2 separate regions of the Homo sapiens genome follow, and region 2 is linked to region 1. The links come from fine-mapping of genetic effects on gene expression. A gene starts in region 1. The other region holds a variant in brackets. All regions are shown on one strand. Distances are between the middles of the regions. Region 1 holds the start of DENND6A (DENN domain containing 6A). Region 2 overlaps PDE12 (phosphodiesterase 12).

What was found.
Region 2: its variant is fine-mapped to the expression of DENND6A in whole blood (INTERVAL, PIP 0.98).

What each region holds. Positions count from the first base shown.
Region 1 is chr3:57,683,414-57,698,987 of GRCh38, forward strand. DENND6A (DENN domain containing 6A) reads right to left here and starts at 9,664. Exons shown (of 20, transcript NM_152678.3): 1 at 9,369-9,664. The coding sequence starts at 9,605. It overlaps DENND6A-DT (DENND6A divergent transcript), which reads left to right and starts at 9,792. Exons shown (of 2, transcript NR_135550.1): 1 at 9,792-9,929; 2 at 10,403-13,238. RefSeq lists an enhancer at 8,992-9,492 and silencers at 9,214-9,453, 9,564-9,663.
Region 2 is chr3:57,564,039-57,579,612 of GRCh38, forward strand. It overlaps PDE12 (phosphodiesterase 12), which reads left to right. Exons shown (of 3, transcript NM_177966.7): 3 at 1-2,810. It overlaps ARF4 (ARF GTPase 4), which reads right to left. Exons shown (of 6, transcript NM_001660.4): 4 at 13,278-13,349; 5 at 11,510-11,635; 6 at 7,325-8,260. The coding sequence ends at 8,174. Among named protein-coding and RNA genes, the nearest start is that of PDE12, 16 kb to the left of the region's middle. The variant C/CA (reference allele first, on the strand shown) is at 5,791.

The DNA.
Region 1 (15,574 bases):
TATAAACTATTATCAGTTAGAAACCCTACCTTCAGGAAATCCAACTTTATGTCATTGACATAGGTCACGCTGGTCTTTTGTCCAAACAGAAGCAAGTATCTACTGTGCATTCCACAGGACGGTAAAGCATTTTGCCAACTAAAGGATCACAAAAATGCTAAAAGCAGTTCATACAACTCAGAAAATAGCCCTGGGTACTATTATTACACTGAGTATTAGCATGTAAACAGGAACACTTTGAGAAATGAGGTAAACTATTACTACCAAGAATTTAAGAATTTTAGTTCAAGCTACCGCTAGCATTTCACATCTTCTTTGCTTCAGTTTCCCTAAATAGTAAACAACACAGTATAGTGGGGGGAAATTAGGCTTCAGAATCAAAAGGACCAGGGTTCAAATCCTGGCTTATTAAGCAAGTGATATGGGGCAAGTTACCTCTTTAAGTTCCAGTTCCCTTATTTAAAAAGTGTTTAGCTCATGCCTGTAATTTCAGCACTTTGGGAGGCCGCAGCGGGTGGATCACAAGGTCAGGAGTTCAAGACCAGTCTAGCCAAGATGGTGAAACCCCATCTCTACTAAAAATACAAAAATTAGCCCGGTGTGGTGGTGGGCACCTGTAATCCCAGCTACTCAGGAGGCTGAGGCAGAGAATTGCTTGAACCCAGAAGGTGGAGGTTGCAGCGAGCCAAGATTGTGCCACTGCACTCCAGCCTGGGTGACAGAGTGAGACTCCGTCTCAAAAAAAAAAAAAAAAAAAGAGTTTATGGGCCAGGCACGGTGGCCCATGCCTGTAATCCCAGCACCTTGGGAGGCCAAGGTGGGCAGATCACGAGGTCAGGAGTTTGAGACCGGCCTGACCAACATGGTGAAACCCCGTCGTCTCTACTAAAAATACAAAAATTAGCTGGGTGCGGTGGCACGTGCCTGTAATCCCAGCTACTTAGGAGGCTGAGGCAGGAGAATCGCTGGAACTTGGGAATCAGAGGTTGCGGTGAGCTGAGATCGTGCCACTGCACTCTAGCCTGGGTGACAAAGCGAGACTCTGTTTCAAGAAAAGAGTCTAAAGCCAGGCATGGTGGCTCATGCCTATAATCCCAGCACTTTGGAAGGCTAAGGCAGGTGGACTGTGGGAGGCTGAGGCAGGCAGATCACTTGAGGCCAGGAGTTCAAGACCAGTCTGGGCAACACAGCAAAACCCTGTTTCTACAAAAAAACAAAAAAGTAGCCAGGCATGTTGGTACACACCTGTAGTCCAGCTACTTGACAGGCTGAGGTGAGAGAATTGCTTGAGCCTGGGAGGTCCAGGCTGCAGTGCACTGTAGCCTGGTGACACAGCATGACCCTGTCTCAAATAAATAAATAAAGTCCAAATATTACTTAATAATTAGTGACGGAAAGGAATAAATGAGGCTGGGTACAATGGCTCATGCCTGGGATCTCAACACTTTGGGAGGTGGAGGCAGGAGGTTCCCTTGAGTCCAGGAGTTCAAGATCACACTGGGCAACACAAAAATAAAACAATTTAATCAGGCATGGTGGCACACACCTGGAGTGCAATGGCACAGTCTCGGCTCACTGCAACCTCCGCCTCCCTGGTTCAAGTGATCCTCCTGCCTCAGCCTCCAGAGTAGCTGGGATTACAGGTATGCGCCACCATGCCTGGCTAATTTTTTTTTTTTTTTGTATTTTTAGTAGAGATGGGTTTCACCACGTTGGCCAAGCTAGTCTCGAACTCCTGACCTCAGCAGATCTGCCTGCCTCTGCCTCCCAAAGTGCTGGGATTACAGGCGTGAGCCACCACGTCCAGCCTAGAATTCTTGTTTATATGAGTTATATCTATCAACATTCACCACTGTAGAAACTAAAAGTATCATTAAAAAAAATTGTTTATTTATTTTAAAATAATAACCTATTACTCATTAACATATTCAATTTTTATGAAAAGTAACTATATTCAGGTTGAGTATTCCTTATCCAAAATGCTTGGTGGGATCAGAAGTGTTTTGGATCTCAGATCTTTTCAGATTCTAGAATATTTGAATTATACTTACTCAGTTGGACATCCCAAATCCAAAAACCTGAAATCCAAAATGCTCCAATGAGCATTTCCTTTAAAAAGCATCATGTCAGTACTCAGAAAGTTTCAGGTTTTGGAGCGTCTCAGATTTTGAATGTTTAGATTAGGAACACACAACCTGTATTCCTAAACAAAACAAAAACCTTACTAAGATGGCATTGTTTACATGTTTGCAAATATCTTTAATGTCTGATTTAACAGAAATAACTAGATTCTCATATCTGCTTCAGCATTCATTCTTTTTTTTTAAAAAAAAATTTGTTTTTCTTTAATGTTTGCTCTTGGCAGAATCATTCTATGTTCATTCTATTGCAATATGTTGTTCTGGTTGAAGAACATGAAGAAAAGCCATACATAGTTTGAAAACATCCTATAAATCCCCTGAAACGGTCTCAGAGATGCCCAGAAGTCCTCAGACCACATTTTGACAACAGCTGGTTTACAAGAAAAACAGAAAAGTTTATATAAAGAGAAAATTAAAAAACATACTCCAAACATGCCTACACATAATGATCCTCTGGAACTGATTCTGATTAAGCAGATGGGTGAGCCCCAGAATCCTCATATGTAACAAATGCCCCAGATGATTCTTATGATAAGAAGAACAAAATAAATAGAATCCCAATAATACAAAAATAGCCTAAATTTACCAAGATATAAATGTTTAGCCTCATTTTCAATAAGCATTAACAGATATTTCCATATCCCAGGTAAAACAGAACATAATCCTTTATTTCAAAGTTACATAATGGTGTAGAATTTTCAGGCACATATACCCTTGGCTCTCAAACAGCTCAAAGTTACTAAAGTTTATATCATAAAACCCAAGCTTAGAAATCTTTCAAAATAAATCTTTGATTACATAAGATTATAACTGCTCTCAGGTAAGGCAGTAAATGCTTGTTGCCTTCCAATACCATTCTTCCTTCTCCTTTTATTAATATAGGCATACCTTGTTTTATTGTGCATCATTTTATTGTGCTTTGCAGTTACCAGTTTCTACAAATTACAGGTTTGTGGCAAGCCTACATTAAGCAAGTCTATCAGCATCATTTTTCCAACAATGTGTTCACTTTGTGTCTCTGTGTTACACTTTGGTAATTCTCACAATATTTCAAACTTTTTTGTTACTATTGTATCTGTTACAGTGGTCTGTGATAAGTTATCTTTGATGTTACTATTGTAATTGTTTGGGGGCACCACAAACCATGCCCATATAAGATGGCAAATTTAATCAATAAATACATGTGTTCTGACAGCTCCACTGACGAGCCATTACCCCATCTCTCTCCCTCTCCTCAGGCCTCCCTATTCCGTAAGACACAACAATATTTGCAACTGGGGCAATGAATAACTCTATAATGGCCTCTAAGTGTTCAAGTAAAAGGAAGAGTCACACATCTCTCACTTTAAATCAAAAGCTAGAAATGATTTAAGTTTAATGAGGAAAGCATGTCAAAAGCTGAGACAGGCCAAAAGCTAGGCCTCTTGGACCAAACAGCCAACTTGTGAATGCAAAGGAAAAGTTCTTTTTTTCTTTCTTTTTTTCTATGCAACAGGGTCTCACCACGTTGCCCAGTCTGGTCTTGAACTCCTGGGCTCAAGGAATCCTCCTGCCTCAGCCTCCCAAAGCGCTGAGAATACAGGCCTGAGACACCACACCCAGCCAAAGGAAAAGTTCTTGAAGGAAATTAAAAATGCTACTCCAGTGAACACATCAATGATAAGAAAGTGAAACAGCCTTACTGCTAATGTGGAGAAAGTCTGAGTGGTCTGGATAGAAGAGCAAACCAGCTAGAACATTCCCTAAGCCAAAGCCTAATTCAGAGCAAGAGCGCAACTCTTTTCAATTCTGTTACGGCTGAGAGAGGTGATGAATCCGCAGAAGAAAAGTTGGAAGCTAGCAGGAGTTGGTTCATGAGGTTTAAGGAAAGAAGCTGTCTCCATAACATAAAAGTGCAAGGTGAAGCAGCAAGGACTGATAGAGAGCTGCAGCAAGTTATCCAGAAAATCTAAGAGAAAAGATGAAGGTGGCTACACTAAATAACGGATTTTCATTGTAGATGAAATAGCCTTCTGTTGGAAGACTATGCCCTCTAAGACTTTCATAGCTAGAGAAAAGTCAATACCTGGCTTCAAAGTTTCAAAGGATAGGATGACAGCCAGGTGTGGTCGCTCATGTCTGTAATCCTAGCACTTTAGGAGGTGGAGGCACGAGGATCCCTTGAAGCCAGGAATTTGAGACCAGCCTGGACAACAAAGCAAGACCCCATCTCTACAAAAAATTTAAAAATTAGCCTGGTGCATAAGCATATGCCTGCAGTATCAGCTACCAGGGAAGCTGAGACAGAAGGATCACCTGAGCCGAGAGTTCAAGGCTTCAGTAAGCCATGATTGCATCACTGCACTCCAGCCTGGGTGACAGAGTAAGACCACCTCAAAAAAAAAAAAAAGAAAAGAACATCTGCTTTGTAAAATTATATTTATGAAGAGTTTTTTGTTTTTTGGGTTTGTTTTTTTTTTGAGACAAAGTCTTACTCTGTTGCCCAGGCAGGACTACAGTGGTATGATCTCAGTTCACTGCAACCTCTGCCTCCCGGGTTCAAGCGATTCTCCTGCCTCAGCCTCCCGAGTAGCTGGGATTACAGGAATGTGCCACCAAGCTGCCTATTTTTGTATTTTTTTATTAGAGATGGGGTTTTACCATGTTGGCTACGGCGGTCTCGAACTCCTGACCTCAAGTGATCCACGCGCCTCAGCCTCCCAAAGTGCTTGGATTACAGGCATGAGCCACCACACTCGGCTTATTAAGAGTCTAATCATCTTACAAACTGTTTATGAGAATATTTATGAATAAAAGCAGACTCACAGTAGACATGTTTAGGAGACTGCTGCCCAGACTATGCTTTGGAAGTGTCCCTCCTATTGCAGGGGTGAGCCTAAGTGACTGCTACTGCTAGCGAAACCTTGTCTCCTAACCACAAGTGAACAAAATGGGACACCTGTCCCATGCTGAGCCAATCAGATACTCCAATATTAAGCTTCAGCCTCATTCCAGAAAAAGAGTTTGGCTAAAATTAGTACCATGGAAACCCAAAGTCAAGCAGAGTAACGGGGGAGCAGAAACTGAGGCCACTGCAGCACAAACCAGCTTCAGCATGGAGAAAAGAACAGACATGCAAAGACCAAAGACAAAAAAAAACACACAGCTCCAGAGACAAAGGCCTGGGGCTTTCCAAATCCCACAGGTTCATCCTTGCTTCCCACACACTTGGATTCCAAAAGACTGCCTGGAATCCTTACAATCACTGTCCCTTTACTTAAGTTTATTTGAGGTTTCTGTTCCTAACAATCAAGTTAATCCTTGACAGATACAAAATTATATAAAGAAAAAAAGTATTAACAAAAATGCCGAATATTAATAGCAGTTGCCTCTTAGTAGAATTAAGAGTGATATTTTCTAGTGTTTATAATTTTTCTTTTTTTTTGAGACAAAGTCTTGCTGTGTCGCCAGGCTGGAGTGCAGTGGCCCGATCTTACTGCAACCTCCACCTCCCAGGTTCAAGCGATTCTCCTGCCTCACCCTCCCGAGTAGCTGGGACTACAGGTGTATGCCACTGCGCCCAGCTGATTTTTGTATTTTTAGTAGAGACGGGGTTTCACCGTGTTGGCCAGGGTGGTCTCGATCTCTTGACCTCGTGATCTGCCCGCCTCGGCCTCCCAAAGTGCTGGAATTACAGGCATGAGCCGCCATGCCCGGCCTAGTGTTTATGATTTCTTTACTTGCCAAGTTTTCAGCAATGAGTATGTTATTATTCACTCAGAAAAAAAAAAAAAACTTGAATAAATAAGGTAATTCTGTATTCGGATAATTAAGGCTTTACTAAATAATTGGTAATTTCAAAGCTAAAAGTGAGGTACAGTATATCAAACCCAGGAGGTTTCAAACCTTGTTCCAGAGGACACTTTGATTCTGTGGTAATGCCTCCAGAGCCACTTCAGGGGAAAAGAAGCTCAGCACACCCCCTGCAGTCAACACCTTGTTCAGTTTCTTCCTAGCTCAAAGACCTCCTTAACCCCCTTCACTTAGGACAGGGCCTTAAAAGACATTTTATGCAAGGTGAACCACTCCCCCTTCTACTCAGGGCTTTAGCCAATTGTATCAGAGTAGGAACCTGCCCCAAACCAGGCCAGATTATCTTCCTCTGGCTTTGGAAGTGAGTTAAAGATTCACTCTTTTTCACTGAAGTGGCTAAAAACGTTAGCTTCTCACCTTAAAGATCAGAGAAGGGCTGGGCATGGTGGCTCAACACCTATAATCCCAGCACTTTGGAAGACAGAGGCAGCAGGACAGTTTGAGGCTACAAGTTTGAGACCAGCCTGGGCAACATAGCAAGACCCTGTCCCCACAAAAAAAATTAAAAATAGCCGGGTGTAGTGGTGCATGTCTGTATTCATAGATACTCAGGAGGATCCCTCGAGTTTAGGAGTTCGAGGTTGTAGTGAGTTATGATCATGCCACTGCACTCCAATCTGAGGCAGACCATGTCTCTAAGGAAAAAAAAAAAAAAAAGTCAGGTGCGGTGGCTCACGCCTGTAATCCCAGCACTTTGGGAGGCTGAGGCAGGTGTATCACTTGAGGTCAGGAGTTCAAGACCAGCCTGGCCAACATGGTGAAACCCTGTCTCTACTAAAAAAAACAAAAAAACAAAAAAAACAAAATTAGCTGGGCAGGCCAGGCGCGGTGGCTCATGCCTGTAATCCCAGCACTTTGGGAGGCTGAGGTGGGCAGATCACACTGTCAGGAGATCGAGACCATCCTGGCTAACACGGTGAAACCCCGTCTCTATTAAAAATACAAAAAATTAGCCGGGCGTGGTGCGGGTGCCTGTAGTCCCAGCAACTTGGGAGGCTGAGGCAGGAGAATGGCGTGAACCTGGGAGGCGGAGCTTGCAGGGAGGCGGAGCTTGCAGGGAGACGAGATTGCCCCACTGCACTCCAGCCTGGGCAACAGAGCAAGACTCTCTCTCTCAAAAAACAAAAATTAGCTGGGCATGGTGACATGCACCTGTAGTCCCAGCTACTTGGCAGGCTGAGGCAGGAGAATCACTTGAACCTGGGAGGTGGAGGTTGCAGTGAGCCGAAATTACACCACTGCACTCCAGCCTGGCTGACAAAGTTAGACTCTGTCTTTAAAAAAAAAAAAAAAAATCAGAGAAGGGGAAGAAGGCAGTTTGCAGGGAACATGAAATATAAACAAGATCTGCACACAAAAAAAGAGCAAAACCAAGAGGTTTCCCTGGTTCTGAACTCTAGCCATTTTCTGAAGCCCTACTAGGTTTATGTCTTAAATAGCTGGAAACCACATATATGGAACCACATACATGATTTCATCTTACTCAGCCTTTTCCTAGTGGAAAATTCACAATGTTCATATTTTTAAAAGATCCAGGAAGCAAAAGGTTAAGAACTCCTGACCTAGAAAAAACTCTATACAGTGGCATACACTATGGAAAATGAAATTCAAAATAAGTCCTTTAATAATTCACATTTTTGCAGCATCTCAAATATATTTTCTGTTTATTTGGTCAAAAAACATATTCACGTTATAAAGAATGTCCCAAATAATGAGAATCCAAAAGAATCTCCTTTAGCTATTTAAAAACACAATCAACTACAACAACCCATTCTTATGCTTTCTGGTTAAATTGTATCTTGCTGTACATATAACTTCAGGTTAACATGGCAAGGTGAATAATAAATGGCTTATAAATCTCTTACTCAAAATCTTTGGGAACTGTTTTTCTTACTTTAATAAGATAAAGAATTGCTCACATATTCACCTATTCTATCAAAAGTATTTATAGAATGCCACTAGGTGCCAGGCACTGCATTTGGCCTTATCAGCTACTATGATTAATTCTTGGTTCTCCTCTAAATTATTGCCTCAATCTACAAATACAGATTAGAGCACATCCTATTTGTATGCTCCACAACTAACATAATGCCTGGTTCTTAGTGGAAACTTAATGTCGCTGAACTGTGTTATAATAAAACATCCAGAAGGCAGGCCGAATACGAAAGCAGTAGCTTCGCATTAAGAAAACTACCCCTAGCCAATTTTCTTAGTCAACCAGGCCACTACAGTATTAATGAAATCGAAATCTGTCACCAATACCAAAAAAAAAAAAAAAAAAAAAAAACCAAAACCAAAACGTCTAAACAAACGCCCTTCTGATAACAATTTCCTTGGACACATGAAAGCAAGCAATTCCTTATGCTAAAAAGACCTTCAACAACGTCAAGAATAGATGTTTCTAAAGCCTTTCGGTAAGGGGCCATACATAAGAATGGAAAAGTTGACTGATTGACAAGCAAATGATGTTCCCTATATTCATCTTGACAGTAGTTTCACACCAACTGTTCCAGAGGCAACATAAAAAAAAATAACAGAAATGAGGCCGGGCACGGTGGCTCACGCATGTAATCCCACCACTTTGGAAGGCCTAGGCGGGCAGACCACCTGAGTCGGGAGTTCGAGACCAGCCTTACCAAAATGGAGAAACCCCGTCTCTATTAAAAATACAAAATTAGCCGGGCATGGTCGCATGCCTGTAACCCCAGCTACTCGGGAGGCTGAGGCAGGAGAATTGCCTGAATCCGGGAGGCAGAGGTTGCGGTGAGCCAAGATCGCGCCATTGCACTCCAGCCTGAGCAACAAGAGCAAAAACTCCGTCTCAAAAAAAAAAAAAAAAAAAAACAGAAATGAGGCACAAAAGGAGGAAAGGGAGAAAATGCGTGCTGAGATAAGCATTTCGACTCAGGCTGAGGGAAACGCTCAAACAGTTACTGCAAATGACTAAAACAATCTGAGCCTTAAAACTTGGTTGTGCAAGTTCGGCTACTAGAGTTCATCATCTGTTATGGGCATTGTTCTTGAAAAAGTACCAAACAAACATCCTGCCTGCGGGCTTCTCCGGGTGGGTGCTACTAACCCTTTTAGTTAATTCTGTGACTCTGCGTTTAAAAGAAATAAAGAAAGAACAGGATGAACATCAACAAGTATTTAGGAGGGGCCTAGAGAGAACTTTTCACCCCTAGCCGCAGCCCAAGATCCTCCCACGGGAAGTGCCGTAGGACCGCAGCCCGAAAGAGCGCGGGAGGGGAGACTGGCCACGCCCGGATGCGCCGCGGACAGGGTCCTGGCCGGTCAGCCCGCGGGCCGCTGGCTTTGCTGCAGCCGCCCCGGCGCAGGGGAGGAGCGCCGAGAAAGGGCGGGGCCGGGCCTCACCTCCACGGCCTGGCCCAGCTCCAGGTCGAAGCCCACCACACACACGCAGTGCAGCCAGGCGGAGAAGCTGTCCCAGCGCAGCAGGCCCCGGCCACGGCCATCGTCCTCTTCATCGTCCTCTGGCGCGCCTCCCGCCGCCACAAGGGCCGGCGCCTCGCGGCCCTCGGCCCCTGCCACCGCTTCGTCCAACGGCCTTCGAGAGCCGGGCCCCAAGCCCGCAGGGCCCCTCAAAGCCATCGGCCGCCCCCTGACCGTTCGCGCCGCCTCCACAGCGGACCGCGCCGCAGAGCGCGCTTGCCTCCGCGCAGGCGCAGACGCTGCTGTCGCAGCCGCTGGGGACCCACTCAGTCCGGGCGGGGCTGCGGGTCACGTGACCCTGGGAGCGGACGTGGGGACGTCACGCTGCCGCTTGTCTCGGATTGTGAAGCCGGTCCTGGCTTCCTTGTCTAAAAGCTCTTTGGGACTGAAATGGCTGTTTATGAATCCTTGTCAACCTCGTTCGCAGTCAACGACCAGGGAATAAATTATTCGTGGAATGACACAGTTCATAATTATTATAAGGTATTATTAAATTATGAAAGCGTAGGCCGGGCGCGGTGGTTCACACCTGTAATCACAGCATTTTGGGAGGCCGATGCGGGCGGATCATCAGGTCAGGAGTTCGAGACCAGCCTGACCAACATGGTGAAACCCCGTCTCTACTAAAAATACGAAAAAATTAGCCAGGCGTGGTGGAGCGCGCCTGTGATCCCAGCTACTCAGGAGGCTGAGGCAGGAGAATCGCTTGAACCCAGGAGGTTACAGTTAGCTGAGATTGCGCCACTGTATTCTGTCTACCCTGGGCGACAGAGCGAGATTCCGTCTCAAAAAAATAAAAATAAAATATATGAACGCATAATGGTGACGGTGGCTAACATTGAACGCTTACTTTGTGCCAGTTGATATGCCAAGTACAAGTGCGAATACTTACAAATATTACCTTATTGAATCTTCACATAATCGCAAATAAGTAGACTATTTATTTCTTTTTACAGATAAGGAAATGGAGGTCCTGGAGGTTACATGACTAGCCCAACAAGTATGACAACTCCGATATCGGCTTGCGGTTCACTCATTCAGTTTGCTGATTCAGAGATCTGTGCATTCACTCACCTGTTCCTTCTCCAGCAAGGCCTCCCCACCCTACCACCTCCTCCTTTCTTAGTTTGGCTGTCTGTGACTCACTCAACACACATCCCCAGACCTTTCTGGAACTCCAGGTTGGGCAGATTGGCCTCCACAGCAACCTGTGGATCTCTGAACACTGGGGCAAGGGCCTGGTCTCAAGCAGCTTCGTATTCTGAGATCAGTTTTTACTGAGTATTGGACCAGCCAGGATACTAACTAGTATTTATTCAGCACCTACTATGTTGAGTATAAATAGCATAGTAAAAGTAGGAAACACACAATAATACCTCAACAGAAAAATGAGTAAACCAGCGAGGTGTCACGCCTGTAGTCCCAGGTTCTTGGGAAGCTGAGGCCGGCTAAGTTCAAGGAGGATCGCTTGAGCAGGAGTTCCAGGCTGCAGCGCGCTATGATCGCGCCTGCGAACAGCCATTGCACTCCAGCCTGGGCAACAGAGCGCGACTGTGTCTCTAAAAAACAACGCAAAACAAAAAACACGGCAGAACTTAAGCATTTTGCTGCACTGCCCAGTGAAATCCATTCCATTTGACAAATACTGCCCTCTTAACATTCTTAGAATTTTTTTTTGGAGCAAGTGTTAGCGTCCCTGTTTTCAAGGAGGTGGTCAAGTATGCACAGACATCAGTAGTGACGTTTGCTGGAGACTTCCTTTAGACAAAAATGAACTTAGGGACAGCACTTAAGTTAGAGGCCAAGTCTTTGGCCAAAGTAGCCTGCCATCCTACTCCAGAGAACTGCTGTGGTTAAAAGAGGAAAAACTGTATTCTGCGATCAAGTAAGGCTCTAAACCCAGTATTAGGAAAGAACAGTAGCCTTTTGTATTAGAAAGAACACTGGCGTGGAAGTCAAAAGTTCTGGATTCTAGTGCCAGCTAGAATCTACCACGATCGTGGTAGGCAAGCTGCTCCAAAACCCAGTTTCTGGTAAATGAGAGTGATGATTACTAACTCACCTCACTGACTGTTGGGAAAAGCTAAGCTATCCTAATGTACACATTTTACCAGATGCTACTTCATTATTAATTATTAATGATCTCAAAACACCAGTTGTGGCCAAGCACAGTGGGTCACACCTGTAATCCCAGCACGTTGGGAGGCTGAGGCGGTAGAATCACGTGAGTCCAGGAGTTTGAGACCAGCCTGGGCAACATAGGGAGGCCCCGTCTCTTAAAAAAAAATTAAAAATTAGCTGGGCATGGTGGCACACACCTATAATTCCAGCTACTTGAGAGGCTGAGATAGGAGAATCACTGGAACCCAGAAGGTCAAGGCTGCAATGAGCCATCACTGTGCTACTCTACTCCAGCCTGGGCAACACAGCAAGACCCTGTGTCAAAAACCAGCACCAAAAAAGAACATAAGTTGTTCCACAGGGCTGGTTCTTCGACACATAGACACAAACTGCGATTCTGTGAAGTGTTGCTTTATAATATTGGGTTAAGGAGAAGGTCAAGGCTGCAGTGAGCCATCACTGTGCCACTCTACTCCAGCCTGGGCAACACAGCAAGACCCTGTGTCAAAAACCAGCACCAAAAAAGAACATAAGTTGTTCCACAGGGCTGGTTCTTCGACGCATAGACACAAACTGCGATTCTGTGAAGTGTTGCTTTATAATATTGGGTTAAGGATGATCTTGTCAAAATACAGTACCCTGAAAACAACATATTAGGAGAGCCAGAAGTTTCCAAAGAAAGAAAGCACACCAAAGCTCTAGAGAATTTTGAAAGTAAAAAACTTGTTTGGGGAGAAAAAAAACAAAAACAGAAAAAAGCATTACTTAAATCTTTATACACAGAAACAGAATAACCACTAGGGTAAACAAAGCAGCTATGGCTTTATTTCCCTCTACCTTCGTAACTTTGACATTCTGCCTTACAGTCTATTTTCACACAGTTTCTGTTGTTAATGGGAGCTGAGGAACAAGGTACTGACACCTTCTTATGGTTCATCAAAAGAACCTTTGACTCTGAAAGGATCTTGGATAGGATCATCTCTCCAAACTTCCTATTCATGGATCTTCTGACATTCAGTTAGCCAGCCTCTTTTCTAACACTCTCTATTAAAGTTAAGTCACTAGCCTGTGATCCCAGCACTTTGGGAGGCCAAGGCCGGTGGATCACCTGAGGTCAGGAGTTCCAGACCAGCCTGGCCATCATGGTGAAATCCTGTCTCTAGTGAAAATACAAAAATTAGCCAGGTGTGGTGGTGCACACCTGTAATCCCAGCTACTTGGGAGGCTGAGGTGGGAGGATCCTCTGATCTGGGGAGGCAGAGGTGACAGTGAGCTGAGATCACACCACTGCACTCCAGCCTGTGCGACAGAGGGAGACTCCGTCTCAATGAATAAATAAATAAATAGCCGGGCGTGGTGGCTCACGCCTGTAATCTCAGCACTTTGGGAGGCTGAGGCAGGTGGATCACTTGAGGTCAGGAGCTTGAAACCAGCCTGGCCAACGTGGTGAGACCCTGTCTCTACTAAAAATACAAAAAATTAGCCAGGTGTGTTGGTGTGCTCCCGTAATGCCAGCTACTTGGGAGGCTAAAGTGGGAGAATCACTTAAACCCGGGAGGTGAAGGATGCAGTGAGCCAAGATAGCACCACTGCACTTTAGCCTGGGCGACAAGAGCAAGACTCCATCTCAAAAATAATAAATAAATAAATAAATAAATAAATAAAGTTAAGTAACTACCTTTCAGAGCTACTATTTTCTGGGTGTTCATAAGGGCTAGAAAGTTCTTCCCTTTACAGAGACAAAATCAGCTACTTTGTAATACACACCCATTGGTCTAAGTTGTGCTTGCTGAGATTACACAGAAGAGTCCAACTCTTCTACATGATAACCCTGCGAACGTTTGAAAATAGTTATCCCACACCCACATGCCTTCTAGTTTTCAGGGTAACTACCCCACATCCTCCAACCGTTCCTCAAAAGATGTAGTTTCTAGGCCATTCATCATCCTGTTGCCCAACTTGGGCATACTCCAACTTGTCAACATCACTCTTACAGCCTGGGAGGAAATACCATCCTCCAGGTGTGATCTTAACATTGCAGAATGTACTCTGGGACTATTCCTTTCCTTGTCCCAGCCACCAGGCTTCTTTTAATGCCAGTTCATATCACATTTACTTGTTTTGGCAGCCAGGTCACATCACTGGCTCAGGTTGTATTTACTGTCAACTAAAGCCCTGGATCTCTTTTCATGTGAGGAGCACTTAAGTCAGGGTAGACTGTGTTAGCCAAGAGCATGACTAGATTCATGGCTCTGCTGCTCTTCTAATATTACCAAGAACATGGAACACAGGATTAAAAACATTCCAAACTTCTCTACTCACCCCTAACCAAAATCCTGGCAATTCAATAGTTTTAACAGAAGAAAGAAAAAATAAAAGGTTGAGCATCAGACAATGGTGTGAATTGTGAAATGCATTATCAGGTCTCTGGGCTTAGTTTTACCAAAAGGACCCACAGGGAGTCCAAATGTCCTAGATATTTACCTAGATGGGCAGCCAGGGGACTTCCCTCTTGCACTTAAGGTAAATGCTGCCAGGGCTGCTGGGACATAACTATACTTGCGGTGGTGAAAAAAATACATGGAAATATACACAGAGGCCCAATACCAATGTGTTATCAATAGAAAACTAAGTTTACTGCTGTACTTCTCTGGAAGACAAAAATGCTCAAATACAGATTTTGAAGGGAGGATCCAGCCAAAGAAAACTATAAAATGCACGATCAGGGCCAGACGCCATGGCTCATGCCTTTAATCCCAGCACTTTGGGAGGCCAAGGCAGGCGGATCACTTGAGGTCAGGAGTTCGAGACCAGCCTGGCCAACATGGTGAAACCCCATCTCTACTAAAAATATAAAAATTAGCTGGGCATAGTGGCATCCGCCTGAAATCCCAGCTGCTCAGGAGGCTGAGGCAGGAGAATCACTTGAACCTGGAAGGCAGAGGTTGCAGTAAGCCAAGATTTCACCACTATACTCCAGCCGGGGAAACAGAGCAAGATTTCATCTAAAAAAAATAAATAAATAAAATAAAAAATAAAATGCACTATGAAGTTTTCCCAGGTTGTGACAGCTTTAAAAAATGGTGGTTGGGTGTGGTGGTGGCTCAGACCTCTAATCCCAGCACTTTGGGAGGCCAAGGCAAGAGGATTCTTTAAAGCCAGAATTATGACAGCACACACCTGTAGTCCTAGCTACTCAGGAGGCTGAGGCTGGAGGATCACATGAGCCCAGGAGGTCAAAGCAGCAGTGAGCTGTGATTGCACCACTGCACAGCCTGGGCAACAGAGTGAGATGCTGTCCCCTCGACCGTTCCAAAAAAAAAAGAAAGAAAGAAAAAATAATGAAGAGCTGTTTTTTTGTTTTCGTTTTTACATTCTTATTATTGATACAATGCCTGGCATGTGGCAGGCACTCAGTAAATATTTAATGAATGAATGAATGCACTTTATTTTATTTTATTATTATTTTTTGAGACGGAGTCTCCCTCCGTCACCCAGGTTGGAGTGCAGTGGCACGATCTCGGCTCACTGCAAGCTCTGCCTCCCAGGTTCACGCCATTCTCCTGCCTCAGCCTCCTGAGTAGCTGGGACTACAGGCGCCTGCCACCACGCCTGGCTAATTTTTTTTATTTTTAGTAGAGACAGGGTTTCAACGTGTTATCCAGGATGGTCTCAATCTCCTGACCTCGTGATCTGCCCGCCTCGGCCTCCCAAAGTGCTGGGATTACGGGGTGAGCCACCGCGCCCGGCCATGAATGCACTTTAAAAAAGCATCTTGACTTTAGGAGGCCAAGGCAGGCGGGTCACAAGGTCAAGAGATCGAGACCATCATGGACAACATGGTGAAGCCCTGTCTCTACTAAAAATACAAAAATCAGCCAGGCGTGGTGGCACATGTCTGTAGTCCCAGCTACTTGGGAGGCTGAGGCAGCAGAATCACCTGAACCCAAGAGGCAGATGTTGCAGTGAGCCAAGATCACGCCACTGCACTCCGGCCTGGCGACAGA
Region 2 (15,574 bases), 120 kb before region 1:
GATTTTATTTTTCTTCTTAGCACTAACTTCAAAATAACCATACAGTACTGCTTGTAATTTTTGTATTTTTAGTAGAGACAGGGTTTCACCATATTGGCCAGGCTGGTCTTGAACTCCTGAACTCAAGTGATCTGCCTGCCTCAGCCTCTGAAAGTGCTGGGATTACAGGCATGAGCCACGGTACCCGGCCTAAATTTTAATTTTATATATAAATGGCAAAATAATCTTAAATATAGTAAATCTGTTCACCTATCTGCTATGCTAGCAAATTCTGGGTTGTCAAAAATCCATGTTCATACTGTCAGTGTTAGATTTTTACTCATAATTTAAAATTTCCCCGCAAAATTTCACAGAAAACTGAATTATTCATCTCTATCTTCTGTCCAATTTATGTAATGAATGTATGTCAAAGCATTTATATAACACAGTCCATTTTGCCCAGTAATTCACTTTAATGATGTTATCATGAAGTATTGATGTACTTTTTTTTTAGTGTATTGAAGTATTCCTAGGTTGCATTTGTGCTAGTTTCATACCATTTGTGTTCCTTATATATTGAAGATGGTTCAGTAGGGGAAATGGATAGGCTTTATTTAGTTGGCTTTCTTATACTGGATAATATAAACACTTTTTTTTTCTTTTTTGAGACAGGGTCTGGCTTTGTCACCCAGGCTTGGAGGGCACTGGTGCCATCACGGCTTACTGCAACCTCCACCTCCTGGGCTTATGCAATCCTCCCACCACAGCCTCCCCAAATAGCTGGGACTACAGGTGCGCACCGCCACACCTGGCTAATTTTTGTATATTTTATAGGCAAAAAAAAAAAAAAAAATGGTTTCACCATGTTGCCCAGGCTGGTCTTGAAATTCTCAGTTCAAGCAGTCCACCCACCTCGGCCTCCCAAAGTGCTGATATTACAGACATGAGCCACCCCACCCAGTCAGCACACATTTTTTTTTTTTTTAAATAAGACAGGGTGTTGCTGTTGCCCAGGCTGGAGCGCAGTGGCATGATCATAGCTCACTGCAGCATCAAACTCCAGGGCTTAAGCGATCCTCCCACCTCAGCCTCCTGAGTAGCTGGGACTATAGGTGCATGCCACCATGCCTGGCTAATTTTTTAAATTGTTTGTAGAGATGGGGGTCTCTCTATGTTGCCCAGACTGGTCTTAAACTCCTGGGCTCAAATGACTCTCCCGCTTCAGCCTCCCAAAGTACTGGGATTATAGGTGTGAGCCAGCACACATAGCCCTTTTTTTAAAAAAATTAAAAACAAATTTTTTCTCCAGAAAAAAACATATTTATCAACTTTTAAAAACATTTTATGGGTACATAGTAGGTGTATATATTTATGTGGGACATATTTCTTTTGATAGAGTAAATTGAGTATTCATCACATCAAGCATTCATTTGTGTTACGAACATTCCAATTGTACTCTCTCAGTTATTCTAAAATGTGATATACACACTTTTAAAAGGATTTATTGCGCTGGGCGCGGTGGCTCACGCCTGTAATCCCAGCACTCTGGGAGGCTGAGGCCGGTGGATCATGAGGTCAGATCGAGACCATCCTGGCCAACATGGTGAAACCCTGTCTCTACTAAAAATACAAAAATTAGCTGGGCATGGTGGCGCGCGCCTGTAGTCTCAGCTGCTTGGGGAGGCTGAGGCAGGAGAATCACTTGAACCCGGGAGGCAGAGGTTGCAGTGAGCCGAGATCACGCCATTGCACTCCAGCCTGGCAACAAAGCGGGACTCTGTCTCAAAAATAAAATAAAATAAAATTTTAAAAAAAGGATTTATTGCATATAATTCTTATATCCCCTGTGGAATAGTTTGGAGAAATGGTACATCCAAAGATAAAATCAGTTAGAAATAAACAGTGGCCTTCCTCAGAAAAGCTGGGCTATAGTGTTTTGGGTATCTTAAACCAAGAAAGGGTATTTCTATCCCAGCTGTAGAGTTTTTAATAATTCTATTATAAATAATGGAATCAGGCCAGCACAGTGGCTCACGTCACATAATCCCACTCTCCTTAAGAGCTTTTTTTGTCACTGCATATCAACTCAGTTGACAAGGACTGGCCCCCAAAAGAAGCTGCATACTCACTTGGCAGTCACTCCCCATTCTCCCTAGCTCCTGGCAACAACTTAACCTGTCTCTGTGGATTTGCCTATTCTGGACATTTCATATAAATTGAATCATAATTTATGTAGTCTTTTGTGACTGGCTTCTTTTACTTAGGATGTTTTTAAGGTTCTTACTGTTGTAGGATGTATCAGGAGTTTGTTTTTATGATGAATGTTCCATCTTATGGACGTACCACATTTGTCCATTCATTAGTTGACAGACATTTGAATTGCTTCCACTTCCTGGCTTCTATGAATAATGCTGCCATAAACATTTGTGATAAGTTTTTGAGTGAATATGTGTTTTTGTTTCTCTTGGGCACATACAGGGAATGGAATTGTTGGGTGCTGTGATAACCTTTTGAGGAACTGCCAGACTTACGGAAAGCAGTTGCACTATTTTGCATTCCCACCAAGCAATATGAGGGTTCCAGTTTCCCTCCATCCTCATTAACACTTTATTATCTTTTTGATTATAGGCATCCTAGTGTCAAGTGGCATCTTATTGTGGTTTTGATTTGCATTTCCATGATGGTTAACGATGTTAAGCATCTTTTCATGTGCTCGTTGGCCATCTATATATCTCTGGAGAAATGTCTTTTGAAATACTTTGCCCATTTAAAAATGTTATTTGTTGTTTAGCCACCCCTCCTTAAAAAATAAATAATATAATAATCCATCATCCCTTGCCTTTTCAGGACCATCCGGGAGGCAAATCTTTCTTAGTCTGTGCTTCATACATCCCTTTAGTTCCCAGCCTAAAAAAAAGAAACACTGTAACCAAAATCTGGTGAGTTCCCAGAAAGCAAGGATAAGCTGTCCAACACCAAGTACTTACATGCCCAATAAAATTGACAATGTGGTCGGGCACAGTGGCTCATGCCTGTAATCCTAGCACTTTGGGAGGCCAAGGCGGTTGGATCACTTGAGGTCAGGAGTTTGAAACCAGCCTGGCCAACATGGTGAACCTCCGTCTCTACTAAAAATACAAAAAAATTAGCTGGCCGTGGTGGTACACGCCTGTAGTCCCAGCTAATCCGGAGACTGAGGCAGGAGAATCGCTTGAACCCAGGAGGCAGAGGTTGCAGTGAGCTGAGATCATGCCACTGCACTCTAGCCTGGGTGACAGAGCACGACTCCGTGTCAAAAAAAAAAAAAAATTGAAAATGTATCATTTGAACAATATAGAAAAATGACTGACAAGGTCAGGAAGGAACCTAACTCCGCTGCCTCTAACACATGAAGCCATACTGGCAGGCATCCAATAATACAGCTACCTTAATTATTCTTTGCCTGTGTCTAGATAAGCACTTCTGCTATTCATTTCTCACAATCTTATTAGAATTTAACCATTTAAGATAAAGGGATAGTCCTCTAAAAGTAGCATAGTAAGAAATAACAGCAGCCAAGTAACCTTCCAGTAGTGGCCCATGAATGCAATGTCACATGTATATACTAGTAGAAATATATTTTCCCTATTAGATCCTCAGGTAATGAACTTACAGACTGTTATTATTCAATCTAGTTTTCATACTAATTCTACCAAAGCTGGTAACCAATATTTACATTATTGAAACATCCAGAAGTACAAGCTACCAGAAGGTACAAGCACTTGTTCTCTCCAGTTTCTCCCCATTGAAAAGCACTTGGCCGGATGCGGTGGCTCACACCTGTAATCCCACCTGAGGTCAGGAATTCAAGACTAGCCTGGCCAACATGGTGAAACCCCATCTCTACTAAAAATACCAAAAATTAGCCGGACATGGTGGTGTGTGCCTGTAATCCCAGCTACTCGGGAGGCTGAGGCAGGAGAATCGCTTGAACCCGGGAGGTGGAGGTTGCAGTGAGCCAAGATCACACCACTGCACTCCAGCCTGGGTGATAAGAGTGAGACTCCATCTCAAAAAAAAAAAAAAAAAAAAAAAAAGTAAAGCACTTGTTTTCAATGACAAGTTAGGAGTCACTTTCAAACCTCCATGACAAAGAACCAGGTATTTCACATTTAATTAAATTTGGGCAAGGCAGAGTGGCTCATACCTGTAATCCCAGCACTTTGGGAGGCCTAGGTGGGTGGATCACTTGAACTCTGGAGTTGAAGGCCAGCCTAAGCAACATGGCGAAACCCCATCTCTACAAAAATTAGCCAAGACTGATGGCGTGGGCCTGTAGTCCCAGCTATGTGGGAGGCTGAGGTGGGAGGATCGCTTGAGCTTGGGAGGTTGAGGCTGCAGTGAGCTGTGATCATGCCACTGCACTCCAGCCTGGGCGACAGAGCGAGACCCTGTCTCAAAAAAAAAAGTTTGATCATAGTAAGTGACCTGAAAGTAATTACTACTGCCTGAAAGATAATTCTGTATACTCAAGTAAACTGAAGTGTCTGAATGAGACACCAATACTCTCCACAAAAGATACACTTCTTTTTTTTTTTTTTTTAATAGAGATGGAGGTCTCACTATATTTACCAGGTTGGTCTCAAACTCCTGGCCTCAAAGGATCCTCCCGCCTCAGCCTCCCAAAGTGCTGGGATTACAGGCATGAGCTACCATGCCTTTTTTATTTTCAATGGAGGGTATATAAGGTAAGTGGAAAATTTCATGGAAATTGAAACTCTTAACAAAATATCAAGATATTACATCACAGAAAAGCAGCTTATGTTAAAGTGAGACAAAAGACAATGGGAAATGTTATGGACAAAAAAAAAAAAAAAAATGCTTATTGGACAGGGGAACCAGAGAGCAGATAATCGTACTATCCTCAACTCTGATGCTGCCAAGTGATCCTGTAAGGGAATCACAATTTCTCTTCAGTTTCTCTACTGACATTATTTGACAATTAGTTGACAGAATACTTTTTAATCTAGGGATATAATCAACTGTTCTGTACAATAGGGGCGGTCACAGAGAACTCTTATTGCTTGACCAACAGTAGGTTTAACATTTGAATGAACAGTAAGCATTGAATCTTGATAGCATCAACTATTTCATAATACTTCAATAAATAAGGACAGTGACAGTGATTTTATGTTTGCATAAAACAGGGAAAGGCTAGGGGTTATCTCTCAATACTTTCTCCCAAAACATTTAAACCACTTCTGTTTGGAAAAAGAAAAAAAGGAACTTTAAAAAAAAATACAAAGACTGAAGAAAAAATAATTTTTAGGGGTAAATGTGTCAAGTTGCTAATACTTTATTATTATTATTATTTTGAGACGGAGTTTCACTCATTGCCCAGGCTGGAGTGCAATGGTGCGGTCTTGGCTCACCACAACCTCCACCTCCCAGGTTCAAGCAATTCTCCCACTTCAGCCTCTCGAGTAGCTGGGATTACAGGCATGCACCACCATGCATGGCTAGTTTTGTATTTTTAGTAGAGATGGGGTTTCTCCATGTTTGTTAGTCAGTCTGGTCTTGAACTCCCAACCTCAGGTGATCCACCTGCCTCGGCCTCCCAAAGTGCCAGGATTACAGATGTGAGCCACCCCACCCAGCCTAATACTTTCTTTAAAAACTATAAAAATTACCTGGGCATGGTGGCTCATGCCTGTAGTACCAGCTACTTGTGGGGCTGAGATGGGAGGATCACTTGAGCCCAGGAAGTAAAGGTTTCGGTGAGCCAAGATCCTGCCACTGGACTCCAGCCTGGGTGACAGAGTAAAACCATCT[C/CA]AAAAAAAAAAAAAAAAAAAAAAAGGTAATTTCCAATGGTACTAAGAGCTGCTTTACATCACGAGTAAGATTACATAGATTCTCTAGTCCCTTTACAGTCCATGTAAACACCTTTGCATAACTAGGTTAAATACCTAGCCCTAACGCTGAACTTATTCACTGATGTTTTATATTTCCTAGTTGATGCCCCATAAGACTACACACACAACAATTATACTATAGTTCAGTTTTATCCTATAGGAAATGACACCTGTCTTCTTTGGAAGGAAGAAAGGAGAATTCATCCAGTTGGCTAGGGAAATTGCATTTCTAACAAGTAACACAAACTAAACATACACTTTGCCCTACCTAATCATCAACCAATTCTAATTTCCTTTTGGTTAATCCAGTGTTTTTTTTTTTTTTTTTTTTGGAGACAGAGTCTTGCAGACCGTGTGCAGTGGCGCTATGTTGGCTCACTGCAACCTCTGCCTCCCAGGTTCAAGCGAGTCTCTTGCCTCAGCCTCTCAAGTAGCTGGGACCACAGCATGCACCAGCACACCAGACCCTTTTTTTTTTTTTTTTGTATTTTTAGTAGAGATGGGGTTTCACCATGTTGCGGCTGGTCTTGAACTCCTGAGCTCAGGCAATCTGCCCACCTTGGCCTCCCAAAGTGCTAGGATTACAGGTGTGAGCCACCACGCCTGGCCATTGTTATTTATTTGACAATTCAAAAATATACATTTTTTTAAAAGTATGCATTTGATTTTGGAATTTTCAATCCATAAATTTAGCTGAATCTTTACAAGCCATTAAGAATGCAACATGAGAATATAGACAGAAACTAAGTTACTCAGTTATCAAGTTGAGCCCTTAAAACTTAATAGATGTAGTTTATGAGGTATACCTTTGTATGAATTATATGCAGCTTTCTGTTAAAGTTCTAAAATTTGCCCTGTTAAAAAGAAAAGTGGTTGTGAAACTTTTTTGTAGGAAAGTAGCATCACTAAGTCTCTATATTGGCCATACAAGTAGCACCTGAATTTTTTTGTTTAATTAACCTTAACTAAAAAACACATACATACATGCTTTTTGGGCAGTTCATTTTATTACAGCCTTTTACTCTCCCTACCCCACTCCACATGCCGCCCCTCCCCACCCCCCACCTGATTTTTTTGTTGTTGTTGTTTTGTTTTTAGTTTTTTAAGTAGAGACAGGGGAAACAGGGTCTTACTACATTGCCAAAGCTGATCTCAAACTCCTATTCTCAAGTGACCCTCCTGCCTCAACCTCCTAAAGTGCTAGGATTACAGGCGTGAGCCACCATGCCAGGCCCTCCTTTTACCCTTGATCTGACTTTAGAAAACTATGTTTTTAATAGTGTTCCCCATGCTGTTATACACATGAAAACAATCTAGATCTCCACTTTATACAATTAGTAACCTACCAGTGGGATCTGTGTTACTGTTCACAGTACATAAAATATGCAAGCAAAGTTGGCTACATAAGAAAATACATTTCAAATACCTTCAAAACTCAAAAAGAACACACACAATTACGTATTTTATCATTTTATTAGGAATAATTCCAAATGGGTTATGAAGAAAATGTATTCATCGAATTTGATGAGTTTTCCAAAAACTCTTAATGAAGATATGTCTGCCCAATAAACAAAACATCAGCAGAACTATCATATACTGAGCAAAAAATCAGGCTGATAACAAAAGCAACATGCAACATAAAAAAGACACAATATAAAGGAAGACAATCTGCTGAGTATTAAAAACCATCTAAATATCAATTCTTTGCAACCAGCACAGAACTAATTGGCTATCAAATCCAAACCCCACCAAGGTTAAGTTTGGCTGATGTAGGCCAGGAGTCAATGTAGGGGGAAAAATTTCCTCAGTGCAAGAGAGCTGAGTAGTGTTTTGGATCTTTCTCTGGCTGGTACAAGCAGTATTAGAAAATCTTTTTGGCAAGGGAGAGAAATAAATACAAATGGAATGCTACATTTTTAAATTAGCAAACTGTCTCAGGAATGATAAAGGTATCAGTAAAGTAGCAAGGGGATAACTTTAAAACATTATTTGTCTGGGGCTCAAAAAACACTCAAAACAATTTATTTAAAGGTTGCACAAGAGCTATGTCCAGGCATTTACGCTTATGGGAAGTAAAATTAAAAGAGGATACTTTTTTCCCAAGGAGAATTTCTTTAAAACCAAGCACATTGCTAAATAGCAACATTATACTCGGTAAACAATAATTGGCAACAAAATAAGTTTAATATTCTGCCCAAACCAGTCCCAGATACTGTTTAATAACCAAGATACAAACTAATTTTGTTGTAACAAGCCTAGACCAATTTTATCAAACATGTCCTTGGTTAGATATCCAATTTCATTTAACGTTTTGAAAGCTCATTTGACAGCCAGTCAAGTCCTTCATACAGACCAGTTCCTTGTGTTGCACAAGTGGCTTGAACATACCACTGTAAAGAGAAGACAAGAAAATACTTGATTAACAAAGTTAATATATAACACCAGTGTTTAAACTTTCTTAATCAAACTTAAGAGTCTTTTCACACCTCTTGCATCTCACAAAACTCTCCCATATTTAAAGCTACTTCTGGCTGGGCGTGGTGGCTCACACCTATAAATCCCAGCACTTTGGGAGGCGGAGATGGGAGGATCACTTGAGCTTAGTAGTTCGAGACCAGCCTGGGTAACATGGTGAGACTTTGTCTCTACTTTTTTAGATTAAATTATTTTTTAAAAATAAAGCCACTTCTACCTATTCTGGAGGTTGCAGTGAGCCGAGGCTGTGCCACTGCACTCCAGCCTGGGCGACAGAGTGAGACTCCGTCTCAATCAATCAAGCTACTTCTACCTATTCATTATATTTAGACAAGATTTTCCCCCCTCATTCAGCTTTCTTTTCAGTGCTGGTTTTTGGTTCCCTTTTAGTAAACTTTCTACCACTTAATCTGAAAAAAGAAATCATGGGGAAATTAGTAACTAATAAACTACCCATCTGGTTTTTATAACTCTCGTTTCCCATAAAACTAAACTCAAAGTAGAAGAGGCAAATTTTTGAAAGAGTAGGGTTTGTTAGGCCGGGCGTGGTGGCTCACACCTGTAATCCCAGCACTTTGGGAGGCTGAGGCGGATGGATCATGAGGTCAGGAGATCGAGACCTTCCTGGCTAACGCAGTGAAACCCTGTCTCTACTAAAAATACAAAAAATTAGCCGGGCGTGGTGGTGGGCGCCTGTAGTCCCAGCTACTCAGGAGGCTGAGGCAGGAGAATGGCATGAACCCAGAAGGCAGAGCTTGCAGTGAGCCGAGATCGTGCCACAGCACTCCAGCCTGGGTGACAGAGCAAGACTCCATCTCAAAAAAAAAAAAAAGAAAGAAAGAAAGAGTAGGGTTTGTTGATATTTTAAGGGCAAGCTTTTCAGACAATTTCACCATCTTTAGTCTCATGCATTCCAAAACGTTCTTGCTTTTAAATGGCAACGAATCTTATCTCTAGTAACTGTGTGAAAGTATCAAAAAAAACCTAGAAAACAATTTACATTTAAGGCATAGTTTACTTTTATTAATTTTTTTGACCAGTTTAATGTTGCAAGGCCACTGCAGGTATACCATGTTGCCAATTATTTGAATACCAAATCTCAGTAACCTAGGAGGCTGGGGAAAGGCTCAAATTCATACCTTCACAGCATGGAAAACTTGTATCATTTACAGTTAGTGTTGCTTGCTTATTTATTGATTGATCGACTGATTGTTTTGAGGCAGAGTACTCACTCTTGCCCAGACTGGAGTGCAGTGGCGTGATCTCGGCTCACTACAACCTCCGCCTCACAGGCTCAAGAGATTCTCGTGCCTTCAGCCTCCCAAGTAGCTGGGGTTACACACATGCACCACCACGACCAGCTAATTTTTGTAATTTTAGTAGAGACAGAGTTTTACCATGTTGCCCAGGCTGGTCTCGAACTCCTGGTCTCAAGTGATCCGCCCACCTTCGCCTCCCAAAGTGCTGGGATTACAGGTGTGAGCCACCACACCCGGCCCAGTTTATGTTCTTCAAATCAGCCTGAGATATCTCAAACAGGCAATAGGTTGTTTTTTTTTGTTTGTTTGTTTGTTTTGAGACGGAGTCTCGCTCTGTCACCCAGGCTGGAGTGCAGTGGCGTGATCTCGGCTCACTGCAACCTCTGCTGCCTGGGTTCAAGTGATTCTCCTGCCTCAGCCTCCAGAGTAGCTGGGCTTGCAGATGCCTGCCACTGCACCTAATTTTTTTGTAGTTTTTAGTAGAGATGGGGTTTCATCATCTTGGCCATGTTGGTCTTGAATTCCTGACCTCATGATCCACCCACCTCAGCCTCCTAAAGTGCTGGGATTACAGGCGTGAGCCACTGCACCCGGCCTGCAATAGGTTCTTTGTTGTTTGTTTCATTTTTTACCACAGCCACAGTATTTCCCTTATTTACAGGTTAATGCAAAACTACTGTAAAAAGCCTATGACACTAAGTTTCTGATAATTTATCTCCATCACTGAATCACTGATCAATGATAAGCAATTTTAGAGAAGTACAAATTTTTTTTTTTTTTTTTAAAGAAACAGTCTTGCTCTGTCACCCAGGCTGGGGTGCAATGGGCACAATCACAGCTCTCTGCAGCCTCCAACTTCTGGGTTCAAACAGTCCTCCCACCTCAGCCTCCCAAGTAGCTGGGACTAAAGGCACATGCCACCACACCCAGCTAATTTTTATTTTTGTAGAGATAGGGTTTCACTTTGTTGCCCGGGCTGGTTTGGAACTCCTGGCCTCAAGCAATCCTCCTGCCTTGGGTTCCCAAAGTATTGGGATTACGGGTGTGAGCCGTGGTACCTGGTCTCCTCCATAAACTGTTATGTTAACAAGCAAACAAGGCTGGGCACCATGGCTGGAATCCCAGCGCTTTGGTAGGCTGAGATAGTGAGAGGATTGCTTGAGTCCAGGAGTTCAAGACCAGCCTAGCAACAAAGCGAGACCCCCCATCTCCACTTTTTTTTTGAGACCGAGTTTCGCTCTTGTTGCCCAGGCTGGAGTGCAGTGGCGCGATCGCGACTCACCGCAACCTCCACCTCCTGGGTTCAAGTGATTCTCCTGCCTCAGCCTTCCTGAGTAGCTGGGATTACAGGCATGCGCAACCACACCTGGCTAATTTTGTATTTTTAGTAGAGACAGGGTTTCTCCCTGGTTGGTCCGGCTGGTCTCAAACTCCCGACCTCAGATGATCTGCTCACCTAGGCCTCCCAAAGTGTTGGGATTACAGGCATGAGCCACCGCACCCAGCCCCCCATCTCCACTTTTAAAACAAGCAAACAAACATTACTGGACCCTTAATAAGAAAGCCAGATTTCAAAATATTTGCTGTAGGGTTACTTAAAAGATACAAAATTAAAATTAAGACTATCAATAATCTTCTTTCCATTCCTTCCACCTCTCCCTTCAAAAAAAAAAAAAAAGAAAAAAGAAACTATCAATAATCTTTAGACCTATTCTACAGTAGTTTTCCGTTTCTTTACAAAAATCAAATAAGGTATTTAAAGTTTATTACCATATTTTTAAATAAATGATGTGCTCATTATTTGTCCAAAGGAGATAATAAATGTTTAAACTGAATATTAGCTTACACAACTATCCTAGTAAGTCTTAATAGTCAAGAGGTTAATATCAACCTCCAAATACTTACTGTTCTGTTACGAAGAGACTGAAGCCCTAGTTTATCTGTCATTTCACTGATGGCCATAGCATTTGGCAAATCCTGTTTGTTTGCAAAAAGTAGCAGCACTGCATCTCTCAATTCATCTACCAGAAGCTGGAAATAAAAGGTAAGGCATTAACAACTACCAACCGGAATCCAATTTTTGAAAATGTCTTCCTATATATACTTTACTCAGCATTAAATACATTATTAAACATTAACCTAATTTCTCGACACAAAGTTCACTCTTACAACTGAAGTCTCATATCCTTCAGTTTTTAAATCCAGAGCAAACAATCATATGCCTTCAAATAAGACAGAACTGTTTTCCAAGTCAATCATCCTACACCCCATTAAATTAAAGCAAATCACTCATCATTCAGCCTTCATGATTACCCATTGTCAGGACTGATAAGGGCAAGAAATACATGTGGGAATAAAATGTTTATGGCAGGTTCTTATGGTACTTAGTAGCAGAAGTACTTAGATAGATGATGATTCTTTTCGGACTTCTATCCTTTCCAACAACAGTGGGACAATAACACAATTATCTGGGTGTTGGCAGTATCATGAAATATACAAAAAAAAAGTACCAAGAACAGAAGTTGTACTGATGCATGATGCAATATAGACGAACCCTGAAAAATTATGCTAAGTGAAAAAATCAGTCACAAAAGAACACATTGTATGTTTTCATTTATATGAATGTCCAGAATAGGTGACTGTATAAAGACAAATTAGTGGCTGTCAGAGGCTGGGAGTGTGGTGTACGAGAGGAAGGAAATGGGAATGACTGCTAATGGTCCAAGATTTCTTTGAGGGTGATGAAAATTTTCTAGTATTAGATTGTGATGATGGTTGTACAACTATGTATGCTAAAAGCCATTGATATGCACATTTAAAAAGGATGACATTTATAGTGTGTGAAGTATGTCTCAACCAAGCTTTTTTTTTTTTTTTTTTTTTTGAAGAGGGAAAGCTGGTGACATTTGACTCAGGCAAAAATCCAACAATGACTTAGTTACACATATACTGGCACAATGGTTTTACAAACTGCCCTCTAATCTTAGGAGGAATGAACAAGAATTAAGATTTCATTTCAGTAAATATTTTATGGCTACAAGTTTAAAATCATGACAAGGATTCTCAGCAGTCTTCCTCCATTTAGTACATTTAACAACATGAACACATGAAAACATTAATCCAATCTATGGGAAGGCTGCAAAATGCCACTGTGAACCAAACATTTGTCTCTACTTTCAGAAGGAATTCCTTATCCTTAAATGGTTACTATTAAAAAACATTTCTGAAGTAATTATTGGCACAGCATAGAGAAAATGGAACCGATGACCTTGGGAACAAAACATCTGAACCAAGATTCCTAGGGTCAAAACCACTACAGCACTATAGATTTGATATCTGTAAAGTAAGGGACTGAGCTAAATCAGATATCCTCAGCCAGAGATAGGCATCAAGATTACCCATGAGGCATTCTAAAAAAAAAAAAAACAACACTGCTCTGCCTTCCTCCCAACTTACTGAAGTAGCTACTCTTCCATGTGTTTTTTAAAACGCTCTATAAGAGATTTTGAAGTACATTATTAAGAACCTGTGGATAATATAGTTTCTTAAGTTTATTTCTAGCCCCCCCAATCCATTTGTGTAATCTAATCATAGTCAAAATGTACTAAACCACCACCAGTTTAATCCAGAAAAGCACACCTTGAAAATGATGAATTTAAAGTATATTTCTTACCATTTTCTGCAGCTCATCTGCTACTTCCTGAATTCTTTCACGATCGTTGCTATCTACCACAAAAATAAGACCCTGGGGAAAAATTGTTTCAGTAAATTTTAACAGTTAAACGACACTCTCTATATGAAACAGTGTAGGCAGCAAAATGGTACCAATGGTTAGACATTAGGAAGAAAATGTCTCTTTAAAAGTAAGAACTTAAGGCTGTAATGCTAAAAGCTGATTTGAGAACTATTTGTAAGTTTAATTTATTAGTGCTATTTCAAATCTAAAAAATTTTTATTCTTCACCAATTAATTACTTTTCTCAACTACCCTAAGAATAAATTGTATCTATTTTTCCCCTTCCCTCTGCACTCTCACATTTAAGTGCAGGTACCAAAATAGCCACAAAGTAGGAACAAAAAGAAAAATAACAAATCAAGGATCCTAAAGAATCGTGAATTTGGCCAGGCATGGTGGCTCATCCTGTAATCCCAGCACTTTGGGAGGCTGAGGCAAACGATCAGGCCTGAAATTGCTTGAACTCAGGAGTTTGAGACCAGCCTGGGCAACATGGCGAAAGGTCATCTCTACAAAAAAATACAAAAATTAGCCAGGTGTGGTGGTGCATGCCTTTAGTCCCAGCTACTTGGGAGATGAGGTGGGAGGAATCACGAGCCCGAGACGGAGGTTGCAGGGAGCTGAAATCGCACCACTGCACTGCAGCCTGGGTGGCAGAGCGAGACCCTATCTCAAAAAACAAACAAAAAAACCCCATGAATTTACTAACTGAATTAGCTTACTGACTCAAAGGCATGTACAGAGTAATAAAAGGGGGGTGGGATAGCGCGAGTGTGTACACTACAGTTTTTATCTGCTTCATCATGGAAGGAAAAAATTAACTTGCTTCAGAATGCTGCCTGCCAACTCTAGATCAGGAAGACATCTTAAGAAAATGATAGCAAGAAAAATCCAAGACTGGGCGCAGTGGCTCACTCCTGTAATCCCAGCACTATGGGAAGCCAAGGCAGGAGGATCACTGGAGCCCAGCAGTTTGAGACCAGCCAGGACAATATGTCAAAACCCTATCTCTTAAAAAAAAAAAGAAAGAAAAATTCAAGATTTACCTGATCGAGTAAGACATTCTTTAAAAAAAGGAAGGTAGTTATCAATTCTTAGAGATACAAATATTAGCTTCTTTTCTCAGACAGGGTCTCAACTCTGTTGCCTAGGAGCACAGTAGCACAATCTTGGCTCACTGCAGCCTTGACCCCCTGGGCTCAAATGATCCTCCCGCCTCAGCCTCCCAAGTAGCTGGGACTACAGGTGCGTGCCACCACACCTAGCTAATTTTTCTATTTTTTGTAGAGATGGGGTTTCACCACGTTGCCCATGTGGTCTCGAACTCCTGGACTCAAGTGATCCACCCATCTTGGCCTCCCAAAGTGTTGGGATTACAGGCATGAGCCATGGCACCTGGCCCATTATTAGAATTCTATACTACAAAATAAATGGAAGGAATTAGGAAGCAACTAGTTGAACTGTTTTTCTAAGAACTTTCAAATGGGAAAGTATAGAATTTTCAGCTAGAAAAGGGGGGGGGCAAAAATAAAAATAATAAAAAAGAAAAAAAGATAAACCTTGACTCCTAAAGTATCAATTTTGATCATGTCACTTATAACAGATTGTCTTGCACTACTGATTTATGTAAGTAACGAGGCTGGTTGAGGTGGCTTTCGCCTGTAATCCCAGCATTCTGGGAGGCCGAGGCAGGTGGATCACCTGAGATCAGGAGTTCGAGATCAGCCTGGTGAAACCCCATCTCTACTAAAAATACAAAAATTAGCCGGGCATGGTGGCACACCTGTAATCCCAGCTACTTGGCAGGCGGAGGCTGCAGTGAGCCGAGATGGCGCCATTGCACTCCAGCCTGGGCGACAAGAGCAAACTACATCTCAAAAAAAAAAAAAAAAAAAAGGAACTAGATTACATCCACTAAGGGCAAAGGACTATACTATATCTTTTTTTTCACCCAGGCTGGAGTGCAGTGGTGCCATCTCAGCTCACTGCAAACCCCTCCTCCCAGTTTCAAATAATTCTCCTGCCTCAGCCTCCTGAGTAGCTGAGATTACAGGCGCCCACCATTACACCTGGCTAATTTTTGTATTTTTAGTAGAGATGAGATTTTACTATGTTGGCCAGGTTAGTCTTGAACTCCTGACCTCAGGTGATCTGCCTGCTTTGGCCTCCCAAAGTGCTGGGATTACAGGTGTGAGCCACCGCGCCCAGCCCCATCCTACATCATTTTCTGTTTAC